Linked DNA regions of Homo sapiens: region 1 is reported to be linked to region 2. The links are microRNA targets in miRTarBase. Many come from high-throughput screens and were not tested one by one. Region 2 holds a microRNA gene; the other region holds the end of a gene's coding sequence.
The links. The annotated mature microRNA hsa-miR-493-3p reads UGAAGGUCUACUGUGUGCCAGG and lies in region 2 at 1,395-1,416, opposite strand. An mRNA with a match to its seed (bases 2 to 7 or 8) in the 3' UTR can be bound and repressed. Matches are read on the target gene's strand: a 7mer-m8 pairs with bases 2 to 8, a 7mer-A1 pairs with bases 2 to 7 and ends in A, and an 8mer does both.

Region 1 (3,406 bases), not on the chromosome of region 2:
GGCAATTTGTGCTGGTTGTTAAGAGAGTCAGAAGAATCAAATTAGCCATACATGGAACTGAGTTATTTTGTAGTCATTCAAATAATCCTCACTTGTAACACGGGGTGAGTGCTCTCAGCAGCAGAAACCTCCAGTGGCCCTCAGGGAACCAATCTCTGTTCCTGCCATTCATGCAGTGCATCTCAAACTGGGGATCTATTTTTCCAGGGGATACAAAAGACGTATTTAAAGTTACACAAGTATCCATTTTACTAGTTGGTAAATAATATAAAACATTATTTTTAAAATATTTAAACATATGGAATATATAAAATTATGAAGTAAAATGCAGCATTTACATGAATTTTTTGTGTAAAACATAAGACTCCAAAAGAACTCTGTGCTTGGGACATTCCCAGACCATTCCAGGCACACATGTTTATTCTCTGCGTTAGGTGCAGTTCATGGAAAAGGCTTAGGAAGTGCTACACAAGTGCATCCTGGGAGCCTTCAGTCCCCACACTGCCTCCTTGTGAAACACCAAAGTCAAAGATGTTTCTTAGAGGAGCATTTTCTTTTTTTCCTAGCTGAAGACTTTTGGCTCAGAGGAACTAAGGAAAATGGAAGGATAAGCTTCCATGCGTTGTACTAGAAAATTCTCTAAAACTTAAAAATGTACCTTAGAATGAAGGGAAAAAAGATTTTGGGGAGGATGCTTCTAGGGAGGAATGTCTAGGATTCTTCGACTAGGCAAGCTTTCTAATATTAAACATTCTGGAGCAGTGTTGTCAGCAGAAGGCCTAACAGACATAGGAAAGGTGGGCATCAGTCAACTCTTAGCGCATTAAGACAAGTCCACTTATACAGAAAGATGAATAAAAAGAGTTGAGATTCATCAATAAGAGATGTTCGAAAATAATTGCTTTATGAGGCTATGTAAATAAAATGATTTTCATAAATTATTTGCTATGCATCTAACAGCAGATATACCTGTTTGACCTTGAAAAACTATAGACAGAAAATTCAAACACTCTATTTACAAAACTGATCAATATTTAGCTTTAGACACTGAAATAAGTATGAGTAATGTAAATATCAACGATTAGTGACCATAAACTCTTTAAGGTTATGTTTTGAAACAAACATGAAAACCAGTAAGAAATTCTAAGCACAGTGAAAAAAGAAATGTTTAAAATTATTTTTAGCAGTAGGTCTGCTTGTGTTTCAACTAAAATCAAAACCTGTTTTCTTATCTGAGATATAATGACCAGATTCTGTTAATAAAGAAATGTTTTTCTTTAAAGACTTAAATAACAGTCTAAATATTTGGGCTATTTTTTCCTTTTAAAAATAAAATAAAATTCAGAATTTTTTAATTTAAACATGAATTGTGCTTTAAATTTGGCCCAGCATCTTCCTGTTTCCCTGAATTTTACACACACACACACACACACACACAAACACACACACACACACAGACGTGTACAAAGTGCATCAGGCTGAGGCAAAATCTGGACCTTCCTGGGAGACCAAGGAATCATATTAAAGTCTTATGGGACCTTGGAAATAATTTTGTCTTGATTTTTACTGGAGCAAAACTGAGATCAAGAAAGGTTGTACAGGCTTGCCTAGAATCCCACATCTGGTGGTTGCAAATTTGGACCAGAGCCTTGATTCCTGTGAAGCAAAGTGAATTAAGATGACCTGGGTTCTAGCACAGACTTCACCAACAGGGCAATCTCTGGTCAGTGTCTTCACTGCTCTGGATTTCACCGCTCCTAGTCAAAAATGCTGAAAGTCATTTTGAACAAACAGAGTCCCAACCACCCCCTGAAAAGGTTGGAAATGCAAGGGGGTGTTTCTAGTTGCTGTAATTACAGGAGGGTGTGACTGCCATCTGTGCTCTGGGTTCTGTAATTCATATCCTGCAAAAAGAACAACTTCCTCCCACACATTGCAGTGTCCCCCCACCTCGCATCCCATGTTGAGAAATATAGGGTGACCCATTACCACGCCTGGGCTCTTTTCATAGTAACTCATCTCCCAGCCAACTCTATGAGTGGCAGCGGCAATCTCACTTAAATGACTCTGCTTTTAGTTTGTCAAGTCACTTTTTGGAATTTCCATTTTGGCATATCTGTATTCTATTTTTAGAACTTTAGTTAGGAAAGGTTATGTTATGTTGGATACAAGTGGAAAATACAGTCATCTTTAGGTGGCCAAATTTTTTAACAGAACTAATTTCCAAATGTAGACTGCCTTAAAAACATTTAATTGTATGATACAACCTTTTAAATAATTTCAGGTTTTTAAAAAATGCATTTCTGTAATCGGCTGTGGCATGACATATAACTTATTGGCAAAATTTCAAATATTTTGATATCTGGTCATTAAATCTTGCCTATGTCTATGATTTATAAATGAACCACAAATGCCACAACTAAGCAGAAGCAAAAAAGTAAAATGCAGCCTATGAATTATATCACAAATAAATAAAAAATACTGTATTCCTTTAAACAAATGTACTTTTAAGAGCTTTATAACTCAAAGCAAGATATGCGAGATGGTTTAAGGAGAGGTTGCAATTTTGCAACAGGAAGTCTGTACAGCTCCTCCAGGCAGTAGCTGTGAAGGAAATACCTGTGTCTCAGAAATTTGTTTCCATGTGTTCATGACACTTTTGCATCCAGGCCCCATTATTTACAAAGTTATGCATTTTGCAAGCTCACAGTACCTTATTCTTCATAATTATGAATGCATGCAATGACATTTCATCCTTTCATGTGAAAATTCTAAGCTTCATTGTAAAATAAACGTTAAGACTTGAAAATCGGCCTACAATTTGAAATGAAAGGATCAAAAATGTCAGACATTGCAGAATATTGGTTCCTAATAGAGCTCTTTTTATTTGTTCACTGTTCTTCAGTCATTTTTGTTGGTTTGTTACAAAATGCAGTCTTGACTCATTATTTAAACAGTACTTAAGCTAAACTGTTCATGCCATGCAAAAATAACATTTTATGCACTTTTTTTGGGGAGGGCTTCCCATTTTTTTAGTTCACAGGCATTATTAACCGCATTTTTAAGAAACAAGTTTTGTTTTGTTTTGTTTTGTTTCAATTTATTGCTTTTGTAACTAGTCACATGCTGGTTTCACGTGTGGGACAATAACCTGTGTCTCCTGGGTTGGAATGAATTTCTGGGGCAAACAAGTGATTTTCCATCTTGCACCCTTCTTGACTACTGTCCTTTTTGACTTCACTCACAGCATGGTAAATGTCTTGCCTACAGTTGTGACCTGTGTCCTGCGGGGAGGAAGAGCCCACACTGCCCTCTTCTCTTAAAGGGTCTCTCCCATCACTAGGCTTATCTGCAAAGCAATTTGGGCTGGAGTCCACCTGCTTCTCCTCCCTTGCCCCTGGGAGCT
Region 2 (3,406 bases):
ATCTTGCCAAGGACTTGGGAGTGAGGACCTTGGGAGCAATCTAGGGACCCCTGAACTCCGGCAGCCATTACTGAGATGACCCATGGGGAATAGAGAGGGGACATGCAATCTCTCCCTCCAGGCTCCACACAGCAGGACCTCAGCTGAGCCCGCACTTCCTCCCCCTGCCCACCACCCCAGCTGATCCCGCCCTTCTGGAAACCAGCTCACCCTCCTCTGCACTCATGCCCACACCCACGCCCCCACCCCCAGCCCTGGCCCAGGCTCTCCTGCCATCCACCGGTGACACATGACTCGAGGAGGAGCCTAGTGTGACACGTCTGTGTGGGGCGGGGTCAGAGTGATGGGGGAGGAGGCGCTTCTGGCGATGCATGTGGAAGAGGCTCCACGTGACACTTGAGGCTGGGACACTTTTCAGCCTTGTGAACATCTAATGAAGCAAGCCCCTCCCAGGTGAATGATGGGTGTCCTGAGCTGAAGGTGGAGACCCAGTAGGCCTGCCTCATCTCGGTAGACCCAGAAGCATATCTACATGCCACCAATTCTAATTCTGAACGAGATAAAACATGCAGGTAAACAATTCTAAACATTTTTCAGAAGTTCCTCCAGCAAAAGTAACATTTCCTTAGCAAACATGGGACATCTTTAAAGACCACAGAGGCCCCCGAATACTGAGTGTGCTCTAGTCCCTAAAGGGAGGTGACCCTGAGGACCTCAGAGTCCACTGTTTTGTCCCTGGGAGTCCACATCCCTTCACCCCAGGGCATCACAGGTTCTTCCTAGACACCAGAGGGCCCCAGATTCTGGCTTTCCAACACCTAAAAACTTCCAAAATAGATATTTCACAACAAACACTTCACACACAAAAAAGAAAACATTAAAATCAACTGACAAAATAATTCCCATCTTCAATCACCATCATTTTAGAGCAAAACGTACATCGTTAACAATCCAATGACACCCACCAACGCGGGCAGCACAGAGGCTGACCAGCAGACTAGGTGGCAGAGTTCAGGTGCCAAAAGGCTCCTGGGGCGCAGGAATCTTGCCAAGGACTTGGGAGTGAGGACCTTGGGAGCAATCTAGGGACCCCTGAACTCCGGCAGCCATTACTGAGATGACCCATGGGGAATAGAGAGGGGACATGCAATCTCTCCCTCCAGGCTCCACACAGCAGGACCTCAGCTGAGCCCGCACTTCCTCCCCCTGCCCACCACCCCAGCTGATCCCGCCCTTCTGGAAACCAGCTCACCCTCCTCTGCACTCATGCCCACACCCACGCCCCCACCCCCAGCCCTGGCCCAGGCTCTCCTGCCATCCACCGGCTGGCGTGCGTCTCCCCGAGGCGTGCACTCACAAGGGCAACGTCCATCTACACGATGCCTGGCACAGGGCCTGGCACACAGTAGACCTTCACCGAATGTGCAAACGAATGAATGAAAGCCTACCATGTACAAAGCCCTGGAGGCCAGAATGAGCCCCGAAGCGAGGATGATGGAGGTGAGGCGGGTGATGGAGGCTGGAATGGCCAGAGATGAGATGCTGTGCCCAGGATGACAGAGGCCAGATGGAGGTGATGGGAGCCGTGATGATGGAGTCCATGGTAACAGACATGCATGAGATGGACCCCCCCCAAAGACGAGAGGGAGAGGAGGAAGCCAGGGCCCAAGAGCTGGGCCTGGAAACCTCTGAGGGTCAAGGTGGGACATGAAGCAGGAGCCTTTCCTGTCCAGACCAGCGTTCAGCTCGACGCCCCACCACCCACCCCACGCACTTGCATTCACAGAAAATCGACCCTGTGTGATCCTCAGAGAATAATCAGTGAGCCCGAGAGCCCTGCCAGTGAGGAGTGGGACGTGCCCTGGAACAGGGGGCAGCAGACATTTCTGCTTACAGACCCCATGAAGGGATTTTGGAAAGCCACGGATCTCCCCCTCCCATAGCCCATTTTTAAATGGGCCGTAAAAGTTAATAGGAAGTTTACAAAGTTGCAATGAGGTGGCCTCTGGCATATACTATAGCATATAGATGTGACAAATGCTAGGTATGGAGCACTTGTCAAAACCTCAGAGGTCTGGAATCAGCTCATTTTGATTTGTCCACTCTGAACCTCACTGGCAAACCAATCGGGCAAAACAGACTTTTTCAGAAAAAGCCTGATGTCATTTTGGGAACCCCTCAATTCAAATCAGTGTGTAAATATGCAGTGCAAAGGCAAACATTTCCCCCCTGGATTCGGAACCTCAGGTAGATGCATCACCTGGATGCCAAGGAGGGTGGGGCACCGTGGGTATGACGAGAACTCACCTGGAGGCTGGGTGGAGGGTGCAGCATCTGGCCAGAGGGCATGGCGGGCACAGGCGTCGTCCGGGCCCAAGGCCCTGTCCAGAGCGTGATGCAGTAGCCGAGGCCTGGGAGGCCCCATCTGGTCCTGAGGTTCCCCAGCCAGTGCCACAGAGCAGCAGAAGCCCCATGCAGTGGCTGGGGGAGCTGAGGGGCTAGGCACAGGACCCAGCCTGCCCCTTGCTCAACCCATTGTCTTGGGAGCTGCCTTGGAAGCTGGAGACTAGGGGGTGGGGGTGGGGGGGATGGCCAGAACCCCAGACAAGGGGGCAGGGGTTAAGGGGTGGGCAACGGGGGTGGGTTCCACTCCAGGACACAGGAGGGAGAGCCGGTGAGAGGACGGTGTCTGCAGCTCATGGGAGCACAGTACCCCCAACCTTGGCCTCAGCCCAGGTCTCACTCCAGCTGCTTTGCCAAGAAGAGGCAGGGGGGGAGGTGGAGAAGGATGGAGAAGAGGAGGGGTTCAAGGGCCAAGACTCTCACTCTTCTGTCCACTGAGGCAGACCTGGACACAAAGACGGACTGATGGGCAAAGCCACAGGGGATATAGGCATGGGTGACTCCGGGAAGCAGGTCTGGGGGCAGGATGTGGATGTGGCATCGGCACCCAGGGTGCTGTAGGCTCAGGGACAGATCCACTGTCGCCCACTCCCAGTCGCTCTCCACCATCTGTCTCCCACGCATGCACATACACACAAGCATAGAGCTGCATACGCATGCACTGGCAGGCACACGCACCCACACACGTGCACACCGGGCATGCTCACACACTCATAGGCTCACGAAGGCACACACAGGCTCATGGAGGCACACACACCCACACACATGCACACAGCTACCCGCTCCCAGGCCAGGGGCCCCTGTGCTCTGAGCCCTCCCATAACAGGAGCCCGGCACATACATCTGAGCCTAACCCAGAGCTAATGGGCATAGGAGCCCATTCGCCCCACACTAGAGGGTGCACACCTAGGGCTGGGGACTGTGCAGGAGCAGGGGTGAATGGAGGACACTAGCCCCACTGCCAGGAGTCCCAAGTTGCAGAAACCCTCCGGAGGCAGCACTT

Region 1: the mRNA of KCNB2 is a reported target of hsa-miR-493-3p. The part of its 3' UTR that is shown has no 7-base or 8-base seed match.

Annotation. Positions count from the first base shown.
Region 1 is chr8:72,937,805-72,941,210 of GRCh38, reverse strand. It overlaps KCNB2 (potassium voltage-gated channel subfamily B member 2), which reads right to left. Exons shown (of 3, transcript NM_004770.3): 3 at 2,862-3,406. The coding sequence ends at 3,120. Among named protein-coding and RNA genes, the nearest start is that of KCNB2-AS1, 58 kb to the right of the region's middle.
Region 2 is chr14:100,867,126-100,870,531 of GRCh38, reverse strand. It overlaps MIR493 (microRNA 493), which reads right to left and starts at 1,472; the gene lies at 1,384-1,472. RefSeq lists an enhancer at 2,824-2,993.